Homo sapiens: one gene and its partners. The protein of the gene in region 1 purifies or fractionates together with the protein of each later gene. This does not show direct contact. Each region holds a gene or a part of one and is shown in the gene's direction. Other genes may lie near its edges.

Region 1 (7,943 bases):
CTCGCACCCAGGGCACGGGTGTTGGTTCAGATGAATGCGTGGAAGTGTGGGAACGGGGATGGTGTTGGGGTCTGGGGGTGAAGGGAGGGCAAAGTGCAAGAGTGTTGCATAGCTGGTGGGCATGAGGTTTCTCATCTGAAGGCAGCATGGATTACATTGTCATGGATCGGGGTTGGAAATGTGTTGCTGTGTATTTACGTTATGTTGCCCGCCCAGGTAGAGTGGAAACAGGGTAGTTACTATTCAAACAGAACCTTTGCAGAAAAATTATTGTAATAAACATGCATCGTGCCCTTGTGCAGTGCACAGCCTAGGCAACTGAGCATGGTGACCCAGGGTACAAGGACCCCCTTTACCATTAGAAGCTCTGGATATTGTGATGTAAAGTCTTGGAACACATCACCTGGGAGCCGACAATCACACGTTTTCCCAAATATCATCCTCAAATGCAGTTGCCGCCCTGGTTCACTGTAGGTCTGAGCCTGCCCTGTTCACTGACCAGCTGTTCATATAGGTTAGCCCGGGTGCTTGTCACAGGGCTCGACTCCCTGGGACACGTGTCCCCATACTAACCTGAGACACGATGGTGAAGAGACACAGCTCCTGTGCAGATGTGCACGAAGGGACCCATTATTCTTGTCTTTTCTGTCTCTTCCCTCACAGAGAGTGGTTTTTCCTCCTGTCTCATGAGGTGCTCAACCCTATGTATTGTTTATTTGAATATGCCGGAAAGAACAATTACTGCCTGCAGATCAACCCCGCCTCCTCCATCAACCCGGACCACCTCACCTACTTTCGCTTTATAGGCAGATTCATCGCCATGGTAAGGGGGCCCCAGGGGTCTGCCTAGTTCCCTCCTCCTCTCCCTCCTCTTCCCTCTCCTGGTGAAGTGTGCCAGGGGCACCAGGGGAATCTGCTCTTTCTCTGAGACCTCCAGGAAGGGGCAGCATTGGAGGAGGCCCTGGGCCTGTTCACCAGGAGGCAGCGTGGCGTGAACGGCAGCCCCCGTGGACTGGCTCACCCTCTCGGGGCTCCACCCTTTGCCCCCATAGAGCTCGTAACCTAAAAATGCAAGAAGCTAGAGAGAGTTCTGGAGAAACCAGAGCTTTCTCAGTGGCTGCCCTGTAGGTAGTGAAGAGTTTCCATGTTGCTTTGTACAGGACTTGTCAAGAGGGAGCCCAGGGTCGCTGGGCCACAGACTTTACTGAACATTAAATATGTGCTCTGTTGAGGGCCTTGGGATGACAGGGCCAGGTGAAACCATAGCTGCCCACCTGCTGCCTGTCTCTGGGAGGTGACACTGTCACGGCATTTGGGAATGTCCCACTGAGACACTAAGCCTTCTGGAAGGGCATTTGGAATCAACACTAGTGTAGAACAAAACGTAAAGTCTGTGGCCCAGAGACCCTGGGCCCCCTCTTGACAAGTCCTATGCAAAGCAACATGGAAACTCTTCAGTACCTACAGGGCAGCCACTGAGAAAGCTCTGGTTTCTCCAGAACTATCTCCAGCTTTTTACATTTTTAGGTTACCAGCTCTATGGGGGCGAAGGGTAGAGCCCAGAGAGGGCGCGCCAGTCCATGGGCGCTGCCGTTCACGCCACGCTGCCTCCTGGTGAACAGTAGACTGGCTGGTGCAGGGTGTAGGGACATCTGTCAGAAAGTGAGCCAGTTCTGGGGAGGGGCGTCCCAGCGTCTGTATTTAACTGGAAAGAGGGACACAATGTGAATATGGAAAGGGAGGTCCTGCCACGTGCCCCGTTGAGGGTCCTGGGAGCGTGGAGAACCCGGATTGAGAAGCGGAGCCCGTGGGAGGCACAGCGCGGGAGCCACATGCATAGCTGGAGATGTTTCAATTCTCCTTTCCTTCGCTTCTTCCCCTGCCTTCCTGAGTGTCCCACCCGGCTCCCCTCTTAGGAGGACCCAAGCGCCCCATGAGCCTGTGACTAAATATGGCCGGCCCTTCCCATCGTCGAGGAGTTCTTGGCCAAGGTGCTGGGCTCTGGAAATGGGCACATTCTTCCCAGGTCTAGAGACCCGCCTGGCCCAGCAGCCAGCAGGACAGACCGGTAAAACCCTAGACTATTACTCACCATTGGCCGCCAGCTCTCGCTGTCGGCGGTGTCTGCATTATTTTTGGCTGCCTTTGCCACCCACCCTGAGCGCCAGTGAATCAGGGCTGCCACCTGCAGCTGTTCAGAGCAAGCCTTTTCTGTGAGCGTGGGGCAGACCTTTGCTAGGCCAGGAGCCAGCCGGCCAGCGTGCGGGGCAGATGCGGGCCCGGACGTGGGTTCCCGCACCAGCTGGCTCTGCCCAGTCCTTGCGGTCTGCAGGGCAGGGTGGGAGTCCCTCTGTAGGTACAAGTCAGGATAAAGGCGTTGTTTACTCCTGAGGCCCTCCCGCTGCGTCCGAGGCAGCTGCTGCTGTAGTTCTGTCAGGGAAGGAAGGCGGGTAGCGGTAGCAGAGTTTGATACCGAGCATCTGAGAGCTGGTCTTGGCAGTGCCCAGGGAAGGCCAAACCTCTGTGCTGTGCCTCTTCCTTCCCAGGCGCTGTACCATGGAAAGTTCATCGACACGGGCTTCACCCTCCCTTTCTACAAGCGGATGCTCAATAAGAGACCAACCCTGAAAGACCTGGAGTCCATTGACCCTGAGTTCTACAACTCCATTGTCTGGATCAAGTGAGTTCCCTGCCCCCTTGCCCCACCGCGCTGATAGGAGGGACGTCTCTGGGTGGGAAGCAGGTACTGATGGCCTTTATTTTGTCTGCCAGTGTGGCCCCTGAGCTCTTTTCCAGCCTCTATAAGAGCTTGTGGAGAGGAATGTCCTCTGGGTTCCCTGGGGACAGTTCTAGAACCTTCTCCTTGAGTCAAGGAGCTGTCCCCTGTCACTGTTCAGGATTCTAGGCCACCTGTGGGCCCTTGGTGTCCCACGGGCAACAGAGCAGGATCCAGGAAAGACCCTGACACGGTAGACATCTCCCCACTTGGTCTCCTGTGCCCCCAGAGAGAACAACCTGGAAGAATGTGGCCTGGAGCTGTACTTCATCCAGGACATGGAGATACTGGGCAAGGTGACGACCCACGAGCTGAAGGAGGGCGGCGAGAGCATCCGGGTCACAGAGGAGAACAAGGAAGAGTACATCATGTGAGTCTCAGGCGCCGGGGGCTCCGCTCCAGGGGTGGCGTGGAGATCTAGTGGGTTGCAGAGAAAGATGGGCCCCCACCTGTGGCCCATCGGTCACTGTGGATGCCATTTGCATTTGCCTTGATGGTGGCTGCTGGTGGGCGGTCATGTGATGGCGCGAGCTGGGGGAACCAAAGCCGAGGTCCTTAGTTACCGACTCCCAGCTGTGCTTTTTCGCCATGTGGGAGACTTCAAGCCTGCAGCGTGGAATTTCTTTGAAGTGGCATCAAGCTGAGACATCTGCATCTTTCTCCGGGCCGAAAGGATCTCTGTGGCCTGTGTGCCTAGACCCACCGTCTCACGTGTGCCCGTTCTCCGTGCCTGTTCCTCAGGCCTCTTGCTTTAGTCTTTATCTCCACGCTTCCATACGTCTGAGGTTCAGTCGGCGCTGGGGGCAGGAGCAGGAGGAGGTGGTGGTGAGGATGATTTCAAAGACTCCGGTGTCTGCAGGTCACTGTGAGGTTTTCAGGGCCTCACTCTAGGTCCTCCAGCAGGCTGGGTCTGGGTGTGCGAAGTGGGCTCTGCTGATCTGGTGGTCCTGCGCGGTAACGGCCACGCGGCCTGGCCGGGAGCCACCCCTGAGCAGTGGGTCTCAGACTCCACCCATGGCTGCTCTTTGGTCTCAGGCTGCTGACTGACTGGCGTTTCACCCGAGGCGTGGAAGAGCAGACCAAAGCCTTCCTGGATGGCTTCAACGAGGTGGCCCCGCTGGAGTGGCTGCGCTACTTTGACGAGAAAGAGCTGGAGGTGAGTGTCTGAGGTTGCTGGGACCCTGAGCCCCTGCCTCTGGGGCGATCCTGCTCTGTGATACGCTCACTGTGTACCCACAGACACTCAGCGTAAAACTCCCACTTCGGCAGGGCAGATGGGTTTGATTTGGGACCCACCCTTCCCCAGACACTTGTTTCAAGAAAGCAGGGACTTACATTACCCATATTATTAACGCTGACACCAAAAATAGCTAGTTGAATATGTTTGGGGTAATGTCAAGTGCTAGCGAGTGGACGATGCGCGGGGAGGGACCTGCCGGGGATGCTGACTGCCGCCTCTCCCCAGCTGATGCTGTGCGGCATGCAGGAGATAGACATGAGCGACTGGCAGAAGAGCACCATCTACCGGCACTACACCAAGAACAGCAAGCAGATCCAGTGGTTCTGGCAGGTGGGTCCCGGGCCCAGGCCTTGGCAGGGACATTTGGGCCATCAACCAAAGGAAACGGGTCCTGAGGAGGCCTCACGCGCAAGGACCTTCAGCTTTGGCCCTGTCCTTGCCTCCCACACCTTGCAAAAGGAGACGATAGACCAGCCTTGGGATGAACGGGGACAGTTCCAGCTGAGTGGTGGCCAGTGGATGTGACAGGAGGTCGTCAGTGGTCAGCCTTGGGCCAGCTGGTGTGCAGGGACAGACCTGCAGGCAGACAGCAGCTGCCACTGGTTGAGAGGTCCCCTGCCAGCCAGATGGGACAGGAAGGCAGGGGCTTGGCTCCAGAAACCAGAAAGAGCTGTCATCCTATGTATAATTAATGTGTTGATTCTTTTATACGTATGGGTTTTGTTGTTGTCGTTATGAAATACAGCATACAAAAAAAAATAGCGATTACAGGTATTCTTAGTACATGTCTGTGTGCATATGTACGTATACAAATTTTTTGTGGAGGTGAAATTTGTATAACATACAATTAACTATTAATTTTTTTTTTTTCAATAGAGACAGGGTCTTGCTATGGTGCCCAGCCTGGTCCTGAACTCCTGGGCTCAAGCAGTCCTTCCATCTCACCCTCCCAAAGTGCTGGGATTACAGGCGTGAGCCACTGTGCCCAACCCATTTAAGTTTTTTAAGATACACAATTCAGTGGCTTTCCACTTTGGGTTCCTTGGCTTCCCACCCAGGCCGAGGTGGGCAGATCACTTGAGGTCAGGAGTTCAAGACCAGCCTGGCCAAAATAGTGAAACCCTCTTTCTACTAACAATATAAAAAATTAGCCAGGCATGGTGGTGGACACCTGTAATCCCAGCTACTCGGGAAGCTGATGCATGAGAATCACTTGAACCTGGGAGGTGGAGACTGCAGTGAGCTGGACCGTGCCACTGCTCTGCAGTGAGCTGGACCGTGCCACTGCACTCCAGCCTGGGCGACAGAGCAGTGGCTTCCAGTACATTCACAGTGTTGTGCACCTGGCACCACTATCTAATTCTGGAACATTTCATCTCCCCAAAAACCTTATACCCATTAAGCAGTCACTCCCATATTTAGTCATCTCTAAAAGCAGAACGTGGATGGGAAGAGAATACCCAGCCTGAGGTGTCCCTGAGACCCAGAGATGTCCCATGGACTGGTGGGAATCTCATGCACACACAGCCTCTTAGCAAAAGCACTTCTGGGGTTTCTCAGGTTGGAGGCTGTCATCCCCTGGCCAACCTGGCTTTGTGTTCTCAGCCCCAAAGAGGGGCCCCGCTGAGCTAGAGAGCTCCACGTTCGGGCAAAGTACTGGGCCCCGTGGGTTGCCTGACTGTGCCTTGACTTGCGGACTTCCAGGTGGTGAAGGAGATGGACAACGAGAAGAGGATCCGGCTGCTGCAGTTTGTCACCGGTACCTGCCGCCTGCCCGTCGGGGGATTTGCCGAACTCATCGGTATGTTTTCTCTCGCCCTCTGGCGTCCTGGCTGGCAGTGCGGACAGCTCAGAGGGAGGGGGAAACCTAGTCTCTTCCTGGAAGCACGTCAGTGGGATGGAGAAGAGCTGTGGCCTCTGCATCCTGGGGCCGAGCCCATCTGTGGGTGGAGCCGGAGGATCCTGCTTTGGGAAGGGACGTCTCTGCTGACGTCGGCGTGTTTTACCTTGGATCACAGGTAGCAACGGACCACAGAAGTTTTGCATTGACAAAGTTGGCAAGGAAACCTGGCTGCCCAGAAGCCACACCTGGTGAGCCTGCTGGTTTTAGTGGGAGGTCGGGGGGCCTCAGACCCGATGAGCTCCTGGGACAGCCCAGTGGGTGTAGCAGCTTCATAGCCTCGAGTCTGGCAGCTTTTGCGTGGCCCTGGGGTGTTGGGTTGGAGAGATGGGGCTGTGATGGGCATCTGATCTACCGGGTTTTACATATGAAGCACTTCTGTTCCAGTAGTCCAAGAGCTACTGCCCCAAGTGTCCCCCGCAACCAATTTCCAGCTGTCCTGGCCCCTCCCTTAACACCCCATGGTCCAGGCACCTGCAATGTGAAGGCCTGACTGGCAGCCCCTGAGCCCTAGCCAGTGTGGTGCAAGCCCTGTGGCCCTGCTGCAGGCAGGCATGGTGGGGCTATCAGAGCCCTGGCCTCCTAGGGCTGACTGTCGTGCTTCCCCACTCTCAATAGCTTCAACCGTCTGGATCTTCCACCCTACAAGAGCTACGAACAGCTGAGAGAGAAGCTGCTGTATGCCATTGAGGAGACCGAGGGCTTTGGACAGGAGTAACCGAGGCCGCCCCTCCCACGCCCCCCAGCGCACATGTAGTCCTGAGTCCTCCCTGCCTGAGAGGCCACTGGCCCCGCAGCCCTTGGGAGGCCCCCGTGGATGTGGCCCTGTGTGGGACCACACTGTCATCTCGCTGCTGGCAGAAAAGCCTGATCCCAGGAGGCCCTGCAGTTCCCCCGACCCGCGGATGGCAGTCTGGAATAAAGCCCCCTAGTTGCCTTTGGCCCCACCTTTGCAAAGTTCCAGAGGGCTGACCCTCTCTGCAAAACTCTCCCCTGTCCTCTAGACCCCACCCTGGGTGTATGTGAGTGTGCAAGGGAAGGTGTTGCATCCCCAGGGGCTGCCGCAGAGGCCGGAGACCTCCTGGACTAGTTCGGCGAGGAGACTGGCCACTGGGGGTGGCTGTTCGGGACTGAGAGCGCCAAGGGTCTTTGCCAGCAAAGGAGGTTCTGCCTGTAATTGAGCCTCTCTGATGATGGAGATGAAGTGAAGGTCTGAGGGAGCGGGCCCTGGGGCGAGGCCATCTCTGCCTGCCTCCCTAGCAGGCGCCAGCGGTGGAGGCTGAGTCGCAGGACACATGCCGGCCAGTTAATTCATTCTCAGCCAATGAAGGTTTGTCTAAGCTGCCTGGGTATCCACGGGACAAAAACAGCAAACTCCCTCAGACTTTGTCCATGTATAAACTTGAAGTGGTTGTGTTGTAGGGTTGCAGGTTTTTTGTTACGCTGCTGTCACTTTCTGTCCAGGAGCTGGCACCCCAGGTGTTCTGAGACCTTGAGGGACCCAGACCTTTGGGTCCAAGAGTTTCCCAAACAGCCACGCCTCTCAGGAACCCACCTGGCGGTTCCGTGAGCTCAGGCAGGCCTGACCCGGCGGCACAGCCTGGCAGGGACCTCGTCCCCAAGCCTGGCAGAATGAGAGGGGTTGAGGTCCCGAGCGCCACTCCTAGCCTTGCCGCCTTCAATAGAGAAGAAATCCCTTTGCTAGATAGGGTCCCCCAGGCAGTCCCCAGTGGCGGGACACAGGGGTCCGGCTGTGGAGCTCCCCTGCCAGCCCCTGGAGCTCCAGGAGGGCCTGTTGGTCCCCTGTTCAGAATGGAGTGCAGCCCGCCAGCGGAAAGTGTTCATTCTGCATAGGTGTGAGGCTTTATCTGCACACAGGACATGAAAACCAGCAGAAAGGCCCTGAGCTGCTGCATAGCCCCATCTGATTTCTGCAGTTCCCGCCAGCCTCCAACACGGGGACTCTGCCGTAACTGGAATCTTCATAGGTCATATTGAAATCTTCAAGGTGACCATGCCCCACCGGG
Region 2 (8,266 bases), on another chromosome or scaffold:
ACATGGGTTCTGCCTTCTTGCAACCCCTATCACTGGCATTGTCTCCTGACACTAAGCCTAAGGGTTATTAGCTTTTGTGTGTGTGCATGTGTGTTTGTGTGTGTGTGTGTGTGTGTGGTAAGAGATACGTAACAAAATTTACCATTTTAACAATTTTTAAGTGTACAATTCAGTGGCTTTAAGTACATTCAAAATATTATACAACTATCACCATTATCTAGTTCCAAACCTTTTCATCATCCCAAACAGAAATTGTACTATTAAACACTAACTTCCCACTCCCTCTTCCTCCAGCCCCTGATCACCACTACTCTACTTTCTATCTCTATGAATTTATCCATTCTAGATCCCTCATGTAAGTGGAATCATACAATATTTGTCCTTTTGTATCTGGCTTATTTCATTTTGTGTAATGTTTTCAAGGTAGACATTTGATTTTTTTAATGGATTTTATTTTGTACAGCACAGATATTGATTTTTATTGTGCAATAAAGGTGTATTTTAAGAAAAAAAAATAAAGGCCAAATAGGACAGGTAGTTTGGGATGTGGAATCTTGACTTCTGAGCTTAAAATGATCCTCCTTTTTTCCATATCGTTATATGGAGGTTTTTAATGTGTAGTATCTAGGCAACCCAGTGTCTTTACACAGGTGTTTTACAGCTAGTGGTTAATTCTCCTGGTCTCCCCCAGAGGGCTTTCTATACTTTATAGTCAGGATATGAAGACACAGGGATGCTGTGGGGATTAGTTAAATGTGTGTGGCACAGTGTGCTGTATAAACTAACTCTCTGGAACTAGTTTTCACTCTCTGCTCTTAACTTCCACAGCTTTTACTGTCAATACCATTCATTTGGCACTTAGCACATGCTTGTTAGTTGTCTTTTTATGTTTATATCCTTGAAGGCAGGAGCTAAGTCTCATGCCTCTTTGTTTTTTCAGTCTTGTCTATAATAGCGGCTCAATCGATGTTTGTTGATGTTGGCCTCCCCCTCCCCCTCTCTTTTAAGTAGTGCAGGCAATGCACAGCTTTAAATCCAAACTCGGTTTAAACAAACTGAAAGGTTTTCAGGGTGAAAACAAAGAAGTCTTGCATGGCAGGATAGAAGGCTTGGAAGACCTGGGTTAAACAGAAGTACCAAAAAGCTGTTTGCCACAGGTTAAGAAATGACTCACACACAGCCTGACTCACCATTAAGTTCAGAGTTCTGCTAACTCTACTCCATCAAAATTTGGAGAAGAGTAATGCCCAAGCAGGGTTTGAGGAGCGGATGTTAAACGAATTAAGTGTTTTAGAGGTTTCCATTGCTCCAATTCCATTGCTCCACAGTATAAGTCGCTGTGGGGAAAGGAAAGCATGTTAGAAAAGTGTTTTGAAGGCAACTTCAAGGCTAGGGGCAGGCATACTACAAATGAGCCACCAGGCCTTTGTTACCAGGATTTTTTTAAATAGCATCTTCCGTAGTAGCAAAAGATGGGAAATAGCCCAAATTTGCTTCCATTTTTTTTAGAGATAGAGTCTTGCTATGTTGACCAGGCTGACCTTGAACTCCTGGCCTCAAGGGATTCTCCTCCCTCAACCTCCCTAGTAGTTGGAACTATAGGCGTGTGCCACCACCGTGTCTGTCTCCCAAATCCCCATTTAATAAGGGGATGAGTAAAGGAATTTTGGCACAGCTATGCAATAGAATATTGAGTTATAATAAAATAAATAAGGTAAACATAGTTATCCTGAGATGGAAGAATATTTCAAATACATTGTTGAGTAAACAAATGCAAGGTGTGCCTTGATTAATGATCCCACTTGTAAGGAACAAAAAGGGAATATGCACTCATGCTTGAATATGCAAATAATCTATTTGGAAGATGACATACAGTCATAAAGAGAATGGGACTATGGGAGCAGAGTGGTGGAGAAGAACTTTTCACTGTAGTCTTTCAGTACCTTTTTGTTTGGTGTTTTTTGGTTTTTTTTTGACGGAGTCTCGCTCTGTCACCCAGGCTGGAGCGCAGTGGCCGATCTCAGCTCACTGCAACCTCCGCCTCCCAGGTTCAAGTAATTATCCTGTCTCAGCCTCCCGAGTAGCTGGAGCTCAGTGGCTGATCTCAGCTCACTGCAACCTCCGCCTCCCAGGTTCAAGTAATTATCCTGTCTCAGCCTCCCGAGTACCTGCTACTACAGGCGCATGCCACCACGTGCAGCTAATTTTTGTATTTTTAGTAGAGAAGGGGTTTCACCATATTGATCAGGCTGGTCTTGAACACCTGATCTCAAGTGATCCACCCGCCTCAGCCTCCCAAAGTGCTGGGATTACAGGTGTGAGCCACCGTGCCCAGCCCAGTACCGTTTTATCTGAATTCTTCCATGTGCATGTTTAACTTTTTTCACTTGGACAGCATTGATTTTAACAAATATCCTTTTGCCTCTGTGATTGGTAGTAGTCCTGCAGCATATACCCGCCCCCCCACATCTAGCTCTCCTGTCCACTCCAAATAACAAGGCTGAAATAACCTTTCCTTGCTTCACAAACCAGGTGTCTCCATATTTTGAACATTCAAAAACTCACTTTCTCCATGAAAAATCACCCAAATAACCTCACTTCATACATAAACAGAATCATAACGAGAATCATTTTGTGCACACTCCTGCTTCTGAATCTTTCCACAGCTCCTAGCAGAGCATGCTGCACACTCCATGACATGCAATAGTCCACTACTTTTCCTGCAGAGTTGGATTCTGAGCCCCTGTTTACTGTGTGATAGTGTTTCCTTTAAGCACACTTCCTCTTGCATGCCTTGATCCATGGCCCCCCAGATGGCTCCCATTAGGCAGGCTTGAATTGGATGTCACTCTTTCATTGGCATGAGCCATTATAATGGCCTTGCGCTGTCAAGGCGTTTACATTTAGGCTTGCTTCCTACTTGAAATGTTTTCTAGGAAATATGGATCTGTAGAGAATGGTGGTTTCCATGGTAAATGTTCCTTCATATTTGTTTTCTTAAGTTCACTTCGGAGATACACAGCATGATTTCCTCTTTCAGTACCAGAACCACAATAGCTTTAAGTTGTCATGAAATTGTAGAACTTTAAAAAAGAAATCTCACCCACCCTGCTTAGAAAAGGGGTAATTTATTATTCTAACTGCAGGGAGTCAACTTCATATCCACCCCCAAAATTGTAGGAAAAGAGTTGACTTTTTAAAATAAAGCCACAAAACCTACACGACCTTGGATGTAAATGCTTAAAACAGATGAGCAAAATATTGATCCTCTAACACATCTAAGACTCTCCATTATGTTTCACACACAAGTAGGAACACATACATGTGTGGAGTGCTTTATAGTTTTCACACACATTTTATTTTCATACCAGTGCCTTTAAGTTAATAGGGCATGTCTTACAGCATTTACTTACAGGTAGAAAAATTAAGGCTGAGAAGTTAAGCCACTTAACAGAAGTCATACAATTAGCTAGTAAGTGCCAGGGCCCCAAATGAATTCTTCCTTTGGTTCCAAATTCCATGTTATTTTGCTACCCTGACACTGTTTCTTTGTGCCTTCGTTTTTCTAGATGTAAAATGGTAGATTTTCCGTGTCCCAGGATGCTGTTCTCAACCCTCTCGTTTTTAACCAATGTCAGCTTTTTTCACAGTCAGCAGAACACCACAATGACACTTCATGTACTTTCCCCCCTCCTGATTTAATAAACTAAGGGGGAAGAAAAGTTACCTATTCGCAGAAAGCTGGACAGTGCCATAAACATAAAGGCGTACCAGAGTCGGCCGACACACTGTTGCACTCTTTTATGAGACTGAGAAATAAAGCGTCTCATCTTTCTCTTGCCAGCAGTAGCTGGGGTAGAACATAGAACTACACAATAGCCTCTTGTTTAGTTTTATTAATTTTGAGGGCGGGTGGGACAAAGGGATCAGACTGGCGACTCCAGGGCCCAATCGCAAGCGTATACTAGGCCAGGCTGGGCCAACCGGTAGCTGCAAAAGAATGGTGGGCGGGACTTACGCTTCAGGGACGCGCTCCGCCCAGGCCGGCGCTCCCAGCCCGCCCAGGGGCGGAGCCTCCGCGGAGCGCCGCCCGCGACCCCTCCTCCCTCGCCCCTCAGCTTCTGCGGCCCGCCAACGGGAGGGGGGCAAGCGCCCGGGGCGGGGGAGCGGAGGAAGAAAGGAGGGTGTCTCGCAGAGCTGTGACCTGGGTGGGGGCCTGCTGGTAATAGGAAGCAAGAGGGGAAGGAAAACGAAGGAGCGCTTCTCCTTCCTGCATTATTTTAAGCAGGCTTTGGTGGAAGCTGCTTTTCAGCATTTCTATTATTTGTTTTTCTTCCTCCCGCAGTGGGGCGGGGAGCTGCACTGGCTCTCCCACGCGTCTATGCCGCGCTGTTGCCGCAGATTATTATTGTAGTCTTTTGCAAAACCCTTTCCTTCTTCCCAGCCAGTCCCCGCGCAGACTCTCACGGCTACGGCAACCGAGTCGTGCCCCTCTAGTGGGAAGGCGAGAGCGAGGGTCCCTTGCTTTCGCCCGAGCTCCCGGACCCCGCGGTTCAATTGTTTGAAACTTCCACGCCCCCCGGCCCCGCCTCTCTTCCGCGCTCCCCTCACTCCTCACTTCCAGGGTCCAGGCAGGCTCCCGCCCTTCTTTCCCCGCCCTCTACTCCGCCTTCCTCCCTCGTCCACCCCTCCCGCCGCCCTGCTCCGGGGCGGTCCTAGCCGCTCACCGCAAGAAGAAAAGCCACCCGTTCGTCCCCCTCCCCTACCTCCCATCCTTTGCCCAGGAGCTGCCTTGGCAGTCACGCCCCTTCCTTCCGAGGAGCTTTCTGGCTGCCTAAACTGGTAGACCCCCTGAATTACTCCTCCATCTCCGCTCTCTTTCGCCTCCTCTTCTCTTAGTTCTCTCCGCCTCCCCCTCAACTACCACCACCTCCAGTCAGTCTCGCCTCCGGCTATCCGCTGCTCCACCCTCTGGCCCGGTATCCTGCCTGTCCGCTGCCACCAAGGAGAGCCCGGACGGAGCAGCGAGGAGGGGAGCAGCCGGGAGTTGGGGCTTCCCCCCTGCCCATCCCTGGCCGCTGGCCCGGGACCGAAGCCACTTGAGCGAGCAGAGAGTCGTCACCTTGTCTTCTTTGCCTTCAGGGGTAGGAGACGCGTGGTTACTTTTCGCGGGGAACTGGGGCAGGAATCCATGGTGGCATGAACTTGGTCGTGCCCTCGGCGTGAGTGAATCGATCTAGGCGCGTGTGGGAATGCCCGTGTGTTCTACTTTCTTTGCAGCTCGCCATGAGTTTTTTTGGATGTGCAGCAAGTTAAATCGGTTAGAGTGTGCGCTGCTTTCCCGTCCTACTTCGGTGAGGAGATGCTAGTGGGTACCACTACTAGATGGTACTTTTACTTCTTTACCTCCTGGGGTTCTTGTGGGTCTCTAGGTAATTAATCACATTGAGGAGCTAAAGACCCGAGGGAAGCTGAAATCTACATTTAGCCCAGCATGCATGTCAGTGCTTATCTCAGATAACTAGATAGGTTTCTGCTAAGTGCTTAGGCTTGGGGTGGGGACTCACACTCCCTGAGGCGGGAGCAGGAGGGGTAGGACCGTGAATTCTTGAAGTTTTAAAGTCTGTGTAATCTAAAACAAGGCTACTCTTTGAGATGTGTGGTGGTGGTGGTAGTGCTTGTGGTGGTAGTGATAGTGGTGGTGAGGAGGGAGTTGCCCCTATCTGCTTTAGAAGATCCAAAGATGTTAGTAAATAGTTTTGGGGGATCTTGAGGGTGTCTTGAGGGTCCAAGCCTGGGCCACTGCACATTGGTGCTTCAACAGTAAGATGGGCTTCATGGGTTTGTGAAAATGAAGAGAAAGAAAAGGGGGAGGGAAAATAACAGTCTTTAATAGACTGTGAGCAGTTCCTGGTAGATTGCCACTAATAATAATATAATAATTTGCATAAAGGGACTAAGTAGAATTAAATGAGCAAGGAAAGAGAAAGTTGGTGAGAAACAGCATTTTCAATCTCTAGTGTATGTTTTAGAACGAACTTTTCAACAACCTGGGATGTTTAGTGCATGAAGTTCTCCTCCCTCCCCGCCATGAAGAGTGGACGTTGGGAGGCAGTTTAAAACTTTTATGAATATAACCCTCTTCTCCCATTCAGAGAAGAAGATAATTAGTCACCATAATCTTCAATGATGAAGGGCTAAGGATATTTAAGTCTCCTTGAGCTAGGCTTTGTGAAAAGTTCTTTCTCAGGCCAGCCTTTGTGAAGCCTTCTCAGTTAGACCTTTCAGCACCCTCATTTAGTAGCTAAGAATAGTTTGAAATGCCATTTTGGATGTGGTATACATTTTCATCCATCTCCCACCTATCTTCAATTGGACAAGTGCGTCAAGCCTGTAAGTGATGGTGTTCAAAGACTTATTACTGAGATGTCCTTAACCCATTGCTTATTTGGGAACACATTATTAACATACATTTTAAAATAACTTTGGTTGATTTTAATGAGTGAAAGGAAAGTAGGAAGGTAGAGAAGGGCGACAATTTTAAAGGCTATCCTGTTTCAGATCAGCTGGGAGGGAAAAGCTGGCCTGACCAAACTACATTTTATAACTGGCCTGGGACATTTTAACAGCCAGGTGGTTGTAGAGTAGTTGCCTCTATTTACAGATGATAACTAAGGTTCCAACTATTCTGTATGGGTTTATCCGGCGTCATTGACAGACACTTTCTGGCACTACATCATACTTCATTTTAAATTACTTCTTTCCTTGGAAAAGTTCGTGGCTTTGTAAAATTGTAAGTGCTTTTTCTACCTTCACAGTCTAGATGTGAAGTAAACCTCTGACCACAATTGTATGTGGAGTCACTTTTACATGAAATTTGTGGATCTGTTTACCTATTTAAAAGATTTTAGAAAGGGAATTTTAATAATTCATAGTCAATGCAGTTTTGGATTTGGAAATTAAAATTTCATTTCTGGTTTATGAAGTTTGATTTATTAGACTAATTCCCAACAAGGACATTTGTAGAGTTGCTTTTTCTTTCTGAGGTTTTGTAAAGACTGCATCAGACTCTAGAATGCTTTAAGAATAGCCTAATCAGAAGGCAGGGGGATGGATACTATGACCTTGAGGTCCCATTGAGTGCCAGAATTCTAAGTGGGTACATCTGCTTCTGTGCCTCTCCCAAGAGCCCTCTCCCAGGGCCTGCGCCTTCTTTAAAAGGGTGTCTTTGTAATTAAGCGGCCCTTCTTCCCCATCCCCCTTTCTTCCTTTGATCCAGCTTTTTAAGGCCTTTTTTTCCATTTGGAGACAAGAGGGGTTTCTCACACTTTCCTGTTCCCCTCTTAACGCTTCTTTTCCTTTACCCCAGAAAAGTCCCCTGAAGTTCTCAGGATGGTTAGAAGTTGTTTTGTTTTGTTTGGGGCGTGGGGGTGGAGTGGGGGAGTTGTTACCAATGAGGAGGAATAGAGGATATATTCCCTCTTGGGAAATGCTTGTGACCAGGTAGCCTCCTCCATGGAGACTGAGCATTTGGAATGCATGAGAACAGTCTATTCTTGGGGACTGTCTGGTAGAAATTGTCCTTTGCACCCATTAAGCCCAGCTTAAACACTGAAAGGGGTGGGGAGAGGTGTGTGTGGTCGTACTGGAGCCTTTTAGGATGGTAAATGGGTAAATGTTTCCAAATCTCCTATTACATCATCTCTTTCTCCCATGGATTCAGTAGGTTTAGTGATCTGCTTGACAAGTTAATTAGCTGGGGACTAAACCAATTTGTTTAGAATTGTGATCCATTGATTTCCTGTCCCCAGGAATTTTTGTTGGTGTTTTACTATGATGTGTTGTCTTTAGTCTTACTTACTTTTCCCTCCTTGCTGCCTTTTGTGGACTTTGGTCCAAATTCTAGGGTTCCACCCCCAAGTCAAAGGTTAGAATTTTGTCCCAGGAACTAAGGGGGTATTAAACAGGCTGGCCATACTGCATTACTCTCCTCCATGGTGGGCTTCTGACCCCTTTTAACCCAGAGAAAGGAGGGAAGTCGCCCCTTCCACACACAACACACACAATCTGAACAAAAAAAAAGAAAAAGAAAAAGAAAGAAAGAAAATAGGAGGTCATTTGCTTTATAAAAGAATCCACAACAGGTTTTCTTTGTAAGTACTAGCTTTCCTAGTTAGTGCCTTTAAACTATGACTTGATATATAAAAATTCACTCTAACTGGGCCTTCTCGGAAGCATATTTATTGCATAAAGGAATACATAAGAA
Region 3 (7,943 bases), on another chromosome or scaffold:
TAATTCATGAGGAAATATCCCAGGTGGGGCACCCAGTAACACCTCAGTAGGAGATATTCAGGGGTATGCAAGAAGTATGTCTGTCTGGCCTCAGCTGGGTGTACAGGAGAAGGAGTTATTAGCAAGGAGTGCCCCACTGGCTAACTAGGTTCGGTGTGGCACAGTGCCCAGTGCCTTTTAAGCTACCATGGCCACAGCTCAGTCCCTTCAGAAGAGATGGTAGTCCAGCAAGGTTCATGTAATGTGGTCATTATTTGTGGGCCTGTCTTTGAAAGCAGCTTATAAATATACCTCCAGATGATATTTCAGACAACAAAGAGTGCTCAGTTGATCTGGTGACACACAAAGGCTCCCAAGTTGTTACACATTAATGAGAAAGTGGCTGAGGAATATACCAGAGCCCTAGGCCACAGTGTCAGGTAGTAGGAGATGGTTATTCATGGGCATCTTTGTGGTTTTAGTAGTAGGTAGAAAGTCCTGACTCTTTTAGTGTAAGTTCAGATTTCCTTGATTTCAAATCATTTGGAAACATACTTCAGCACTCCTCCTAACCCACTCAACCATCTCAGAAAGGCTGACCATCCCATGTGTCTGAACAGGCCCCTTGGGTTGTATGTTTCTGTCCAGCACAAGACCCTTGCTTTGTGTCTGTGATTGGTGGTGGCCACTTCTTATTTCTGTCTAATGCCATTCTTGTGTCTTCCCTTAAGCAACTCTGCTGATGAAACAGGCCTGGCCACAGAACTCGTCTTCCTGTGGCACTGAAGGCACCTTCCACCTCCCAGTGGACACCGGGACCGAGAACCGAACTTACCAAGCATCCTCTGCGGCTTTCAGTAAATACAGCCTGTCTCATTTCCTTGTTCCCCTTGGTTGGGACTGATTTGTTTCTTAGGAAGAAAGGAAAGGGAGCTTTTTAAAATGACATTTATGAGATAAATAATGTTTTAAGAGGTTCTTTTACCCAGGCAAAAAATTACCCCTCCTTATTCAGGAAAGGTCATTCTCTTTGATCATGCACTCAGCTTTGGGGAAACACAAAGCACTGAGGGAAGGAGAAGGAAATACTCACCTGGCCAACAAGTTGATTGGGGAAGGACTGTTACTGCATTTTAGGGGGAAAGGACAGAGGGCACATTTTGAAGGTCTGTGGGTCTTTGGACAGAGAGGGCTCCCCCCTCTAGCACAGGGCTTCTTAATCTCAGCACTATTGACATCTAGGCCAAATAATTCTTTGTTGTGGGGGCGCTGTCCTGTGCATTATAGGATGTTTAACAGCATCCCTGGCCTCTACCCTACATGCCAGTAGGAAAGCCTCATTGTGACAACCAAAAATGTTTCTAAACATTGCTAAGTGTCCCTTATGGGGCAAAATTGCCCTCTGTATGAGAAACACTGCCCTAGTGCAAGCTGCACTGTGGGACCAAGGTGTGTATGAGGAGTCTTCAGGGAGGCCAGAAACCAGCTAGCCAGTCAGACTGGTCATATTCATCCTGAGGCTCAGTAGGGTAACTGATGTTGTCACCGTCACATCTAATTTTTAACACAAAGTGGTTCCACTGGGGAAATGAGGACCAATGTTTAGAAATTACTGAGTGGCAGCCGGGCGCGGTGGCTCATGCCTGTAATCCCAGCACTTTGGGAGGCCAAGGTGGGCGGATCACGAGGTCAGGAGATTGAGACCATCCTGGCTAACACGGTGAAACCCTGTCTCCACTAAAAATACAAAAAAAATTAGCCGGGCATGGTGGTGGGCGCCTGTAGTCCCAGCTACTCAGGAGGCTGAGGCAGGAGAATGGCATGAACCCGGGAGGCGGAGCTTGCAGTGAGCCAAGATCACGCCACTGCACTCCAGCCTGGGCGACAGAACAAGACTCCGTCTCAAAAAAAAAAAAAAAAATGAAATTACTGAGTGGCATTTTGACTCCATATAAGGAAGAACTTTGTGTCTTGTTGGAGCTGTTCAATAGAGGAATGACTGACTTTGGATGTGGTGAGAACTTCTCTCTTAAGTTGTGAGGGCTGGATAAGCCCTCAAAGGGATATTCCAGGCAAGGCCTGATAGTGTGTGGTTCCACAAATTATTAATCTACTAAGTAAGTAGACTAGAAGAATTCATTGTATTTTTTTCTTTTCTTTAAAACATCTGTGTTAGTCTGTTCTTGTGTTGTTATAAAGAAATACCTGAGGCTGGGTAATTCATAAAGAAAAGAGGTTTAATTGGCTTACGGTTCTGCAGGCTGCACAAGCATGGTACCAACCCCTGCTTAGCTTCTGGTGAGGGCCTCAGGAAGCTTACAGTCATGGCGGAAGGCAAAAGAGGAAGCCAGCATATCACATGGTGAGAGAGGGAGCAAGGGGCTGGGAAGGTGCCACACTCTAAATAATCAGAGCTCACTCATCAGCAAGGGGATGGTGCTAAGCCATCATGAGGGATCTACCTCTGTGATCCAGTACCTCCCAGCAGGCCCCATTTCCAACACTGGAGGTTACATTTCAGCATGACATTTGGAGGAAACAAACATCTAAACCATATCAACATCCAATGTCATTTTCTCAAGTTTTCATTGCCCCTAGATGTCAACATCAGTTTATGTTTATACAACGTAACTCACCTTTTGTAAAATATAGTCTCATAATCACCCTTTCATTTAATCTACATTACACTCAGTCTACTAAGTTATTTAGGTGGATTTTCATCCCAGTTTGAACGATGAGGCCTAGAAAGGTAATAGGTCCAACGCCACCCAGCTAGTAAGCAGCACAGCCGGAAAAAGGTATCACCCAGGTTAAGATTCAGTTACTGACTTTTCTCATGAGATTGATTTTACTCTTTAAGAGAGGTATGTCAGGCCAGGCGCGGTGGCTCACACCTGTAATCCCAGCACTTTGGGAGGCCGAGGTGGGCGGATCACAAGGTCAGAAGATCGAGACCATCCTGGCCAACATGGTGAAACCCCATCTCTACTAAAAATACAAAAAATTAGCCAGGCATGGTGGCGGGTGCCTGTAGTCCCAGCTACTCGGGAGGCTGAGGCAGGAGAATGGTGTGAACCCAGAAGACGGAGCTGGCAGTGAGCCGAGATTGCGCCATTGCACTACAGCCTGGGCAACAGAGTGAGACTCCGTCTCAAAAAAAAAAAAAAAAAAGAGAGAGAGGTATGTCAGCCATAAGGAGTTTCTCCAGATACCTCAGGTAGAATGAATGAACATACGTAAGATTATATATATATAAAAATAGGGATATACATGTTCTCTCTTACATCTAAACATCTGGATATAGACGCATATAGGCACACCTACTGTAGTGTAGCAGAAAGCAGCCTGGAGTGGAAGCTGCATTGAATTCTAGACTGGGTTCTGTGTAACCTTGGATAATTGATGTCCATGCATTGGACCTTGATTTTTCAAACTGCAAAATGAGGGAACTGAACTAAATCATCTCCAAGGTTCTTTCTTGCAATTAGACTCCTTATCTCTCAGCAAGATGATGTGTACTCAGCGTCTTCCACCCCAACAGGGACCACCTCTCTAGCTGCCCTTAGCTGGCCAACAAACCATCTCCAAAAATGGAGTACTCATTCCCTTCAGAGGCAACCCTTTCCACAGGAAGTCTGAGTAACAGAAGGCCTTGCCTTCTACTATGTTGAAATCTTCCTGAAATCCCATTAAGTGTCCAGCAGCCACATCCCACTGTTCCCTCCCAGACAGGCTATCACAGTCCCTGAAAAAGACCAAAATGTACCCACCCCCACCTTTTTTTTGAGACAAGGTCTTGCTCTGTCACTCAGGCTGGAGTCCAGTGGCACAATCACGTCACACTGCAGTCTCAAGCTCCTAGGCTCAAGCAATCCTCCCTCCGCAGCCTCCCATGTAGCTGGGACCACAGGCATGCAAAACCATGCCCAGCTAATTTTTTTAATTTTTTGTAGAGATGGGGTTTTCCCACATTGCCTAGGCTGGTCTCGAACTCCTGGGCTCAAGCTGTCTGCCCACCAGCTACCATGCCTGGCCTACCTCTGTTTCAAGCAAGTAATGTATAAACCTGTGCCATTTTTTAATGCAGTTGGGGTTGACTGGCCCTCCCATACTCAAAAAGATTCCTCCCAGCATTCAGATTTTGTGGCTTCTAGTACCACAGAAAATTCAGGGCACTTTGACAAATTCAGTTCAATTTCACTGATACTTGCTAAGCCTGTTTGTAATTAGGTCTCCTGCTGATTCATCACTGTCTCACTTGGCTACCAACAAGGAGTCTTAGGGGTCAAAGCAAGATTCAGACATAGAGCTTTATTTTGTCCAGACATATAAATCTGATGATCAATAAACCAATTAGTCTAAAAGGCATCCGTGATGCAAGGATCAAGCCTTTGAAGGTGGTAGGGCTTCTACAACTGAAAAAGATTTATGACAGTGAAAAAGGATTGCAGAAAGCGCTGAAAAGGTTTTATCTTGTTAATGTACATACTCTTTTTATTATCCCATTTGATTCTAAAATTATGGTTAGGAACCTAAGAGAAAGAATAGGACATCATAAACAAAGCCTCTTTTATAAGGCAGAGCTGGGACTTCGAGTGATCTAATTCATTTTTTCTTTCATGATATTGCCTTTAGTGAAATGGGGACAACAAAGGCCAGTATATTAAATGCCCAAGATTGGACTACAGAGACTTTAACTCAGCAAGAGCTCTGCCTAGGGCAGGGTGAGCCCTGAACTTTGGGCCTAGCTGTGTACTGATGTGCTGTACAATTTGGGGAAAATCTGTCCTTCTGGGCTCCAGGTTCTTTCTCGGAAAAGGAGGAGGTTGAATATAAACCTCTAATGTCCTTCAGGCACAACATTCCAAAGTCTTAATTCTGTGACCTTCAGACTTAGAATTCCTTTCAGGATAGCCAGGCCTCCAGTGAGTGAACTGAGTCTAAGTTCATTTGGGCAAAATCTGTGAGACTTTTTTGCAACAAGCCCAACAGCTTCTTTTACTTAGATGCATAAAGTAATAAACCCTGATTTTTGTGTCACCCAAGCTCAGGCTATAGCTCCAGGGGAATTTTCAGTGTTCCTCAAGAGTATTGACAGGACCACTAGTAAATTATGGAAAGTCCTCTGAAATGATTTCCTCATGAAAGTCTTCTGAAATACTCAGAGACCTAGAATGTCAGCACTAGAGAAGTTCTCTGATACTGTCTAGTCCAAATGAGGATATTCCCTGAGAGGAATTGACCTGACTTACTGACAGAACCTAGGATGAGGGCCCCCAGGCAGTTTCTCCAGCCTCATGAAGATCCTCCTGACAAATGGTAACCTTGAGAACCACTGTGGTTAGAGGAAGTAGCACTGAGTCTTAGATCCCCACAAACAGCTCTCTCTTTCAGCAACTACTCATTATCTCATCTGTGAAATGTTTACGTTGGTCTTAATGATCTCTGAGTCTTCTAGCTCTGCAGTTCTGCTTCTATCTCAGACTGTCTGGACAAACAAGCAAGGCCTTCTTCTGCAGCATCATCTCTTTGGCTGCCAAGGGTGTTTTGGCTACTGATTTGTATTCTGAGTATGTGTGTGTCTCATTTCATAACATGAAGAAAGGGAAACATTCTCAGACAAGGTTATTCTTAGATGTGGGAACCAAATTCTACTGCAGTCTCTTGGAGCTTTTTGATTTTCCTCAGAGGGATAGTCTCACCACTTTGTAATATGGCTGTCCTTGTGGCATACAGTGGGTAATCCAGCTTCCCCAGGGAAGAGAAAAATTCCAGAGCACATTCTCCAGGAGCATAAAGGAAAGTCATCAGCATCTTTGGCCTGTTAACTTTAAAGAATCATAAAATCATGGCATTTTAAGCCATAACATTTTAGAATCTTAGAATCCTGGAGTCTGTGTTCCAAGCTGGGACAGACCATAGTAGTCATAGATTAGCTTTAGTCTCTCAGACCAGGCTCTGCCTGCATACCCTTAGGACAGAAGCTTACTGTCCCTATAAAGTGAGAGAGAAAATAATAATAGCTGATCTTTATAAAGTGCTTCTAATATGTCAGGTACTGTTCTAAGTGCTTTTTACTTAACAGTTAATGTATTTATCACAATGAAGTAGGTACCATTACTGTTCCCATATCACACGCGAGACTGATGTATCCTATAGCTATTAAGTCTCAGAGCTGGGGGTTTGGACCCAGGCAGTCAGTCTGTCTCCAGACTGCTCATAACCATGGCTCTGTGCTACAGAGCTTTCAGAAACAGGCACCTTCTGATTCAGGGGTGTCCTACTCTCCTGCATAGAAAAGGGATGCTTTCAGCTCTGCTAGGTTTCTCTACACCTTGATATATTCCTTTAAATTAGGGGTCAGCAAACATTCCTGTAAAGGGCCAAATATTTAGGCTTTTAAAAAGGCCATATGCTCTCTGTCAGTGACTACCATTGTAGCAGGAAAGTAGCCTTAGTCAATATGTAAATGAATGGATGTGGATGTGTTACAATATAACTTTGTTTACCAAAACTAGCTTCAATTACAAAAAACATGGCTGAAATTTAATTGTTTTAAATGTTTATAGTATGAATAAAAGATTCTGTGGTAAAATTAATTTGGAAAATACAGTCTTGTACATACTCCCATCTTAGAGATTCACAGTTCACCTCCCCACCTTCTTTAAGAGACAGGGTCCTGCTCTGTCACCCAGGCTGAAGTACAGTGTTGTGATCATGGCTCACAACAGCCTTAGACTCCTGGGCTCAAGCCATCCTCATGCCTCAGCCTCCCAAGTAGCTGGGGACTACACCAGCCACCATGCCTGGCTAAGTTTTTTTCTTTTTTTAGAGATGTAGTCTGTCTGTGTTACCCAGGCTGGTGTTAAACTCCTGGTCTCAAGTGCTTCTCCTGCCTTGGCCTCCCAAAGTGCTGGGATTATAGGTGAGAGCCATCACATCCAGCCCATCCTATTGTTTTAAAAACTTCTCAGGGTCATGGAATAAAAACAAAATCTTAACTGTTTATCTCTATTTTACATATGGGACTATAGAACTCTTTTGTTTCCTTTTCTTTGGCAAAAACAACTATTAAGATCCCTTGGGATCTATAGTACGTTGTCCACATTTGGGAAATGTCTATCTCTGGTTTATCTATAAAACCCCTTTATTTTATAGATAAGTAAATTGTGTCTCCGTACACATCAGATGGTTCCTTCTAGACATCTGCAAAGCTAGTCTCCCTGTCTTCCCCCACAGTATCTGCTTCTCCTCCTATGACCACATTTCATCATTAGCTCCATAATCTAGAAACTTTGAGAAATCTGCTCTAGACTTCTCACTCAGCTCATAGTTGCACTTCCAGTTAGTTTCTACTTCTCTTTAACATGCTTCCCTCTCTTTCATATGTACTTTCCATTCTATCCTCATTGTTACTTATTTCCCAAGCATATTTGATCACAAAACTATGGAAAAAACTATGGATCTGCAGGTGAAAAAATAAATGACGTGAATCCAGGAACAGGCTGACTTTTGTGGCAGCTGTGCAGCAGCTCTCCTATCCTCCTGAGTCATCAGGGGCAGGGGGGTGCTAAGCCAAAGAGGTGTGATGTGGACTGAGAAAGATTTGTGACCATGTGGTAGTTTGCTTTTACTTGGGGTTAAGGTAGAAGAGACCCAGGATCTTTAGAACCATGGAATTTTTGTTTAGGAAGAGATCTTCATTCTTAGCCACCTGATTTTACAAAATAAGAAACTAAGGCCCAAAGACTTGACAATTGTCATGAAAAATTAGGGGGAAAGCCAGGACTGAAGACTAGATGTCTTCTCTTCCAATAAAGCACTCCCTCCACTCTGCCCCTAGTCCCTTATTATATGATAGAAACAGCACCTCGGAGCTGAAAGGGTCCTTGGTGAGCATCTTATAGGTGAAAGAGCTGAAGCCCAGAGAGGTTCAGTGAGGTCTGCTAGACTTACCCAAGATG
Region 4 (7,943 bases), on another chromosome or scaffold:
AAATGAGATTTTAAAGTGCTGTCGTTAAGAAAAACACATGAATGCAGAAATGTGAGTGATTTTATGGGAAAGCACTCCGCTGATCAGACTTGAGAGTGTCTGCCCTGGGCCAGTTAGTCTAGAGGCTGTTGTGGGTAGAGCTCAGCTTTTCTGATGTCTACCCCTAAGGAAAAGTGTGGACCCAGGGCCTAGGGAAAAGATGGCTGAACTAATTGAAATGAGCAGTCTGGCTGGTGAGAGTTCTGTTGAAAGGTATAGCCTCTAGGTATCAGTGCTGCATTTCTTCATAGTAATTTGTGAAAATGCTTTGAAAATGATAAAACAAAGACTTTTGAAAAAAATAATTAATGACATGAAATGGGAATTGCTAGTGAAAATTGTAAAAGTTTGATTTTTCAGGCCAATAAATTAAAAAGAAGTAACTTTATAGGACCTGCTAATATTTCTGATATATAAAATTCCCCCAAAGTAACCTTTTCTATTTTCTTTTCTTTTTGGCGGGGTTGGGGGGGGGGTGCGGTGTGTGGCTATCTGCATTTTAAATGCATAAGGAAGCTCAGGTCAGAAAATTCTGCAGTGTTTTGAATAATTTTTCTCCTATTTTTCATTAATTTTGGCAGGTTCTTATGACTCAGAATTTAGTAGGTAATAAAATCCTCGAAAAGCAAGGGGTAGTGTGGAGGTCAAGTAAAGGGAGATATTTGATTACAAGGTTTGTTGGAAATAGTCTGAGGTTGTTGTGGTTTTATGTTTTGTTTTGTTTTTTTGTTTGCCTAGTGATTTTTTTAAAGTTAATTTTGTTGGCTTGGCTTTGTTTTGTCTTGAAGGAGAGGTACAATGTAAATCTTGGCCATTGTGGGTAGGGCAGTCCTCTACTTTTGCTGGAAGGAAGCCACTCCTGCTCTTGGTTTATGTGTTGGCATCAAGCTGAGTTCTACTTTAACTTGTGAGGCCCTTGGCTCTGCTCTCACGGCCAGGCCTTGTGTAACCTTAGGGTATATTCATTTTGGACACTCAGGACAGGACTCCTGGACTCCTAAAGGGGCTCACACATCAGGCATTTTCCCCCCATCTTTTAGGAGAGAGTAGGAGAGTAGCTCTAAGGTGTTGGAAATGTATCCCTGTTAAGATACTGAAGAATTAGATTTAAGTTTTCAAAAACTGTCGTTCTATGGTGTGTGTTTAAACCTGTGTTTGAGACCTCACTGGCCAATATTGCAGCTATATACCTCTATTTTTTCATTTTGTTTTTAAGTAAAATGTCTGCTGTTTACTTTTAACTTTTCGTTTTGAAATGATCATAGCTTCATAGGAAGTTGCAAAAATAGTAGAGAGGTCCTGTGTACCCTTCACCCAGTTTCCCCCATTGGTAACATCTTACATAACCATAGTACAGTAGCAGAACCAGGAAATTGACATTGGTACAGTCCACAGAGCATATTCAGATTTCACCAGTTTTACATGCACATGTAAAATTTGTATTTCTATGTGTGTACTTCTATGCATTTTTTCATGTGTAGATTCATGTAACCGCTACCACAATCAAGGTACAGACTATTTTATTACCCCAATGATCTCCCTTATGCTACACCTCTATAGTTGCACTGGCCCTCTTCTCCCCATCCTCACTCTGTTGCTAAATGCTTAGCAACCACTACTCCTGTTCACCATATCTATAATTTTATCATTTTGAGAATGTTACATAAATACAATCATGTAGTATGTGAGCTTTTGAGATTGGCTTTTCACTCAGCATAATGCCATGGGGATCCATCCAAATTTTTGCATCTCTCAATAGTTTGTTTCTTTTCATTGCTGAGTAGTATTCCATAATATGGATGTACTATGGTTTGTTTAACCATTCACCTATGGGTTTTTTCCAGTTCATGACTATTTCACATAAAGTTTTTATGAACATTTATATATAGGTGTTTGTGTGAACATAAGTTTTCATTTCTCTGGCGTAAATGCCCATGATTGTGATTGCTGGATTGTATGGTAAGTGTGTGTTTAGTTTTTTAAGAAATTGCCAAACTTTTCCAGAGTGGCTGCACCACTCCTATTAGCAATGTATGAGAGATCCAGTTTCTCTGCAACCTCACTAGCATTTGATGTTATCACTATTTTTTATTTTAGTTGTCCTAATAGGTGTTCTAGTAGGTGCTCTAATCTTACCATGGTTTTAATTTGCATTACCCTAATGGCTGATTATGTTTAATGTCTGTCTTTTTTATGTGCTTATTTGCTATCCATATATCCTCTTTGGCGAAATAACTATTCATGCCTTTTGCCCATTCCCTAACTGGATTATTTATTTTACTTTAGAGCTTTAAGAGTTCTTTATATATTCTAGATGCAAGTCCTTAGTCAGATTTGTGGCTTGCACATATATTTTCCCAAGTATGTAGCATGTCTTTTTATGTCCTTACCAAGGTCTTTTGCAGATCAAAAGTTTTTTATTTTGATAAAGTCCAGTTGATAGATTCCTTTTTTCTTTAAGGATGGTGCATTTAGTGTCACATCTAAGAACATTTTGCCTAGACCCATGTCTCAGACATTTTCTGCTGTGTTTTCTTCTAAAAGTTTTATAGTTTTACATTTTATTTTTAAGTTATAGTTCACTTTTGTCTGTCTTAAGAGTTTGTATGTCTTGCTGCTGAGCTTATAAACCATCTATTAGGTCTCGAATATGCACAGATGGACTATCAGGTGTAGTTCCCATTCTGAAGTGCTCACAGATTAGGGGTGTGGCATGTGGACATTACCATGTGTTACTACTATGATGGGGACACATGTGATGTACTGTGGGTGCTCTGAGGAGAGAGGGCTCACTTTGGTCCAGGCGGTCAGGGAGGGCTTCCCTGGGCATGCTGCCCAACCATGGTGGGAATAAAATTGGTTTGCTTTTGATCCAGTTTTTAGATCTTTATTGCCATGAATTCTTTAGAGTGTGTTACTCTGATTCTTGAGCACATGCTGATTGAGTTGGCATAAACTGAGTGGTTGAGGACCTTTTTGAACAGTACATGGCATGATAGCTTAAAAGAAGGTGAAAACACAGTACTTAAAACTCAGTAACATAAACAGTATGAATGAAGTTGAATAGATTAAGAGTTATGTATATGTTAAAATGAAAAAGGAGAGGTAGTATTTTGGATTGAGAACAGGTGTATCCTGGCCCTGCCGCCTCCTTGCTGTGTGACCTCGGAATTGTACATGCTGAAGCCTCATGAGTAAAATGGGGAAAATAATAGTTCTTCCCTCATGGAGCTGCATGAGGGCAAAGTGAAGCAATGCGCACAATGCTGGGCACGTTGAAAGCATTCAATAAATACCTGCTACCATTATTATTACTAAAACAGCAGAGAAGCAAAACACTTTATAATGTTACGTAAATTCGCATGTATCCGTCTTCTTTGAGAACCTGGAACCCCTGTTCTTACTCATGGAAGTGTTCCTTTTCACAGTTGGGAGCGCTGTGAATACTACTTAGTGAATGAGATAGAAGCTAGGATGCCCTATTCACAATCTATTACTATCTATAAAATAAACCTTTCTTTGCTTCTATAAAAGTATGATTTCTGATGAAAGAATGATTTCCTCTGTGCCCTTGAGCACAGGAGGCAGGAGGAGGTGGGTCTGCATTCAGAAGGCTAGTTCAGAGTTTATGGTGCTTGGTACTGTAGGTGCAGTAAGTCAGGGCTGATGTCACCAGGCCGTGTCTCAAATTTCATAACTGGCAGCTCTGTTTCCTTCTTGATGACCAAGTTGTTTACTTCTCAGAGGAAATTAATTGGGTCTTAGATGTACAATTCCAGGACAGTTGTTCTCAAATGTGATTGAGCATCAGAATACCCCAGAGGGTTTATTGAAACATGGATTGCTGGGCCGCACCCCTAGAGTTTCTGTTTCCTTGGTTGATTGAGGATAGGGCCTAAGACTTTGCATTTCTAACACGTTTCCAAGCAATGCTGATGCTGCTGGTACTGGAAACACATGTTAAGAATGACCATTTTAAAACATAGCCCCTTTAAATTGGGCCTGGACTGAGATGCTTACCCTTTGGAATGGAGTTTGTTCATCTATAAGTAATTGAGTTTGAAACAGATCTATTTCTAAGGTTATTAGTTGATATAGCTATATTTCTTCCTCTAATCACTCTTCTTTTGTGCCTCACTTTCCTGACCATGACTTTTTCTTCTATCATTTGTCTCTCACTCCTTGGAAGACATGCCACAACTGGGTATATGGCTACCATATTGCCTTGGTAAATCACTTAGGCTCTATAAAGTAAGTGTATTTACTAAATATTTATCTTCTAAGGTTATTGTGTGGCTTAAATGACATAGTGAATGTGAAAGAGCTTCATAAGAAGTGAAATTTTGTGTAAAATAGTTTTCTTAAAATTATTTTCTGCATCATCAGTATCTTTTTGGAGCAGTGTCTCTGACTGACGGTAAGTTTCATTGCTACTTGGGGGACTTGGTAACGATTGCATAGACATATGCAGGGACCATGGACATACTCAGGGACATCATGAAGAAGGTTCCTGCAGTGGATGGATGGTTAAGCTAGGGTCTGAGTGCCTTCCAAATGGAAATGTTTTGGAGGCTGATTGATAAATAGTTGTAGTAAGGACCAAAGGAGAGCCCAGTGCTGGAAAATTGCTTGAGCAGATGTTGAAATATTAGAGATTCAGCTTCCTCAGAGTAGAGAAATATAACTCTGTGACTTTTTTTTTTTCTAGCAGTTTAGGACAGATGTGATCTGGCCCACATCTATGTTTTTAAAGTTCTAGACCTATGCTGTCTGTAGTAACCACTAGTCACTTGTGGCTATTTAAATTAATGAAAATTAAACGAAATGAAAAATTCAGGACCTCAGTCACACTAGCCACAGTTCAAGTGCTTAATAGCCATTTCCATCACTGCAGCAATTTCTGTTGAGGAGTGTTGTTCTATAGTGAGATTGGCTCTGTTGTCTGATGGCAACACCACTGGGCTTCAGATGATAAGACAGGGACACATTTTTGAATGAAATGTACCACATCTCCCTTGGAGGGCTGGTATGAACTGATTGGGAATGCTCTATTCACTTGAACCCCATTTTACCACTTCTGTTTTGGAGGCTCATTCCATTTGAAAGCTGGGTCAGCATGGCAACTGGGTTATGCTGGCGGCAAAGCTTACCAGGCCATTATCAGGAGATGTCTGCTGTTTCTAGGGATGTTCCACTCATGGGATTCTTCCAGGGATCTGGTCCTTGAGAGAAGCAAATAGAAATGCTTGGGTGGAATTAGCACGGAAAGGTCCTCCTGAAGAGGACCATCAAAGGTCATCCTGAACTTCTCCACCTTGGATCCGTTCCACTGTTGAACCAAGCTTTGTCAATGAGAGGCAGGCAGCTGGCGCTTGTTCATCTCTCCAGTGTTTGCACATGCTCAGATACCATTCCACACTTCATCATCCTATTGTCTCCTTTGAAAGTGTTCTGTAAACTGTAATAAGGTTCATCTCCTTGCCCACCCTACATCCAGTCAGTCTTTAGGTCCTGCAGTTGACCTCCAAAATACTTCTTGCATACTTTCCCTTCCTTTGCATGTCTCTACAGCTAAACCAGTTTAAGGGCTAATTACCTGTTTCCTGGACTATTGTGATAGCCACTCACATAACAGGTCTTCCCACTTCTGTTTTCTTGCACCTCTTCTGACCTACTCTGTCCTTCCTTCTTTCCCTGCTTCCTCCCACCTTTCCTCCACCCTTCTCAGAATAGGCCCAGCAAGACAGGGATGATAGATATCTTGTCTTCCAAGCTTGCTTTGCTTTCTCTTTGTGAGGTAGGGCTCTGCACACGCCCTGTGGCCACGTGCCAGGGAGGAAGGAGGCATCTCACATTCAGCTGCTGCTTCTCAGCTGTGAGGGCTGCTCTGGGTGGTATGACCCAGCAATGTGACCCCTGACAGCAGGTGTGAAGCAGGCCTTTTCCTTTCTGACACGGGTGGTGTTCTGGAGGGCTCTGAGAACCAAGTGTTTTGTGAGCAAGCCTCCTCTATCTGCTGGTCTTGGGAAAAGTAGAGAATATGAAATCCTCTGGTAAGGCCCTGTTTCCTGAGGGACTGGCTCCTAAATATCACTGCAGTTATAGGTTGATTACTCATCCTGGTGATGTGGGAAAGGTTGGAACATAGAAGAAGGGCAGACAAAGAGATTAGGAAATGTGCTTTTTATGGAAATTACTGGATGCAGCACTCAGTGCATATCATTAAATTCATTGCAGAAAAACACATGTAAAACCAATCTAGCTTCTTGAAAAGAGAAATGGTCTAATGGTCTTTTTATCTAAAAGAGCAAAGAAAATGCCTTCTGAAATCACAGTAAGCTTCAATTAAGACACCTGGGAAAGTAATTTTAAAAGCATCACACAACCATTTATACAAACATTGAAGATAATGGCGGTGTCAGGTTTGTTTAAACTAGTAGGTTTGTTAAAGGACATAATCCTGTCAGGCTTATCTTCCCGTGGTATTGACTGGCCTGGCAGATCAAAAATGAGTGGTAAGTGGCATAAAAATGGTGAATAAATATACCTTAGCTGACTTTTAGAGTTGATCCTGTATGATAGTCATCAAAAAACTGAAGAATAGAGTCTAAAAAGTCTACTTTGAGATATATATTAGCTTAACCCTGAGTTGAGGCATTACATTTCCCCAAATTCTAACATTTCTTACTTTCAAATTTCTCCAAAATAAATTCCAGGAGTTTGGAGAAAAAAATTGAAATAAAGACAAATATTTACATTTTAATGACATTTATTAAGTGACTAAAATAACTTTATTAGTTTAGGAACAAAAAATGGGTTATGTGTAATTGTTTGTTCATAAAATAAAATACTGAATTTCTTGTATTAAATTTAGTAATTTATTTAGGCAGTAGTCACAATTATGCTAATTGAATTTACTTTGAATATTTTCAATTTCTCTTATAGAAGAGACATTAGGGAGCATGACATTTCTTATTTTGGACAGAATATAAATTAGGCAGAAATTTGGATACAGAATCACTCACTCCTTAAATATCTGTTGAGTGAATAACTCTGCTTTGTACAAGTCAATACTGAGGTGGAGAATTTGATGGGGTTACAATAAAAGGATATATAGTTCATCCATCTGATATTTGAGGGTCTGTCATGTGCCAGGAACTGGGCTAGGTGTGGGATATATATCCTTTGCTCCCCATGGAATTCATATTCTATAAAAGGAATGTAATGTATTAAGATGTTAGAAAACAAAAGACAAATGAACTGGGTTCGTTCTGCTCTAAGAAGAGAAGAAAGGATTCATAACTGTCTTTCAAGTATTTATTTTATTTTCACTTTGAAATGAGCTTAAATCACAGATATCATGACTTCTACAAGCTTAGAAGAGTTCTCTCCTGGGGAGGGTGGATAAATACAGATTAGGAGGATATGGAGGGCAAAGAGGCAACCAAAGAATTAATAGAAGTGTGGGGGTATCTTACTAGAAATCTGCTTAAATTGAGAAAATATGATGTAATGTCCTGCCTGATGGTGGGAAGAGGACCCTAATAGGCTAACTGTGGTGTGCCCTTTGGATATCTTTTTTTGATTTCAGTAATTATCTATGGAGCTTAATGGTTAAGACTCCAGAACTGGAAACCTGTATTCACACCCAAACTGTGCCACTCACTAGCTTTATAATCTTGGCTAAATTACTTAACCTCTCTGTCAAGTAGAATTTCCTCATGTGATATATAGGGATCTTAATTACACCTACCTCAAAAAATTGTTAGGAGAAATACATGCTGGGTATAAGAGCAATATCTGACACATTGGAAGAGTTAAGTGTTAGTTATCATGGTTGTTGCAGTTACTATTGCAACATTTTATTATGCTTATAGATTCTATGGGTCTGGACTTCAGGCAAG

Evidence for each region.
Region 2: the proteins of WWP2 (region 1) and AMOT purify together in Homo sapiens (affinity purification with mass spectrometry; 5 studies listed by BioGRID and IntAct, with this or other methods). This does not show direct contact.
Region 3: the proteins of WWP2 (region 1) and FAM168A purify together in Homo sapiens (affinity purification with mass spectrometry; 5 studies listed by BioGRID and IntAct, with this or other methods). This does not show direct contact.
Region 4: the proteins of WWP2 (region 1) and AMOTL1 purify together in Homo sapiens (affinity purification with mass spectrometry; 5 studies listed by BioGRID and IntAct, with this or other methods). This does not show direct contact.

The regions. Positions count from the first base shown.
Region 1 is NC_000016.10:69,933,307-69,941,249, forward strand, and holds part of WWP2 (NEDD4-like E3 ubiquitin-protein ligase WWP2), read left to right. Parts: intron 1-663; coding exon 664-823; intron 824-2,546; coding exon 2,547-2,680; intron 2,681-3,005; coding exon 3,006-3,146; intron 3,147-3,811; coding exon 3,812-3,932; intron 3,933-4,241; coding exon 4,242-4,346; intron 4,347-5,720; coding exon 5,721-5,817; intron 5,818-6,034; coding exon 6,035-6,107; intron 6,108-6,534; coding exon 6,535-6,634; 3' UTR 6,635-7,943. UniProt on the Homo sapiens protein: E3 ubiquitin-protein ligase which accepts ubiquitin from an E2 ubiquitin-conjugating enzyme in the form of a thioester and then directly transfers the ubiquitin to targeted substrates.
Region 2 is NC_000023.11:112,837,330-112,845,595, reverse strand, and holds the start of AMOT (angiomotin), read left to right. Parts: upstream 1-4,764; 5' UTR 4,765-5,144; exon of another isoform or gene 5,145-5,388; intron 5,389-5,645; exon of another isoform or gene 5,646-8,266.
Region 3 is NC_000011.10:73,412,767-73,420,709, reverse strand, and holds part of FAM168A (protein FAM168A), read left to right. Parts: intron 1-710; coding exon 711-836; intron 837-7,943.
Region 4 is NC_000011.10:94,770,755-94,778,697, forward strand, and holds part of AMOTL1 (angiomotin-like protein 1), read left to right. Parts: intron 1-7,943. UniProt on the Homo sapiens protein: Inhibits the Wnt/beta-catenin signaling pathway, probably by recruiting CTNNB1 to recycling endosomes and hence preventing its translocation to the nucleus.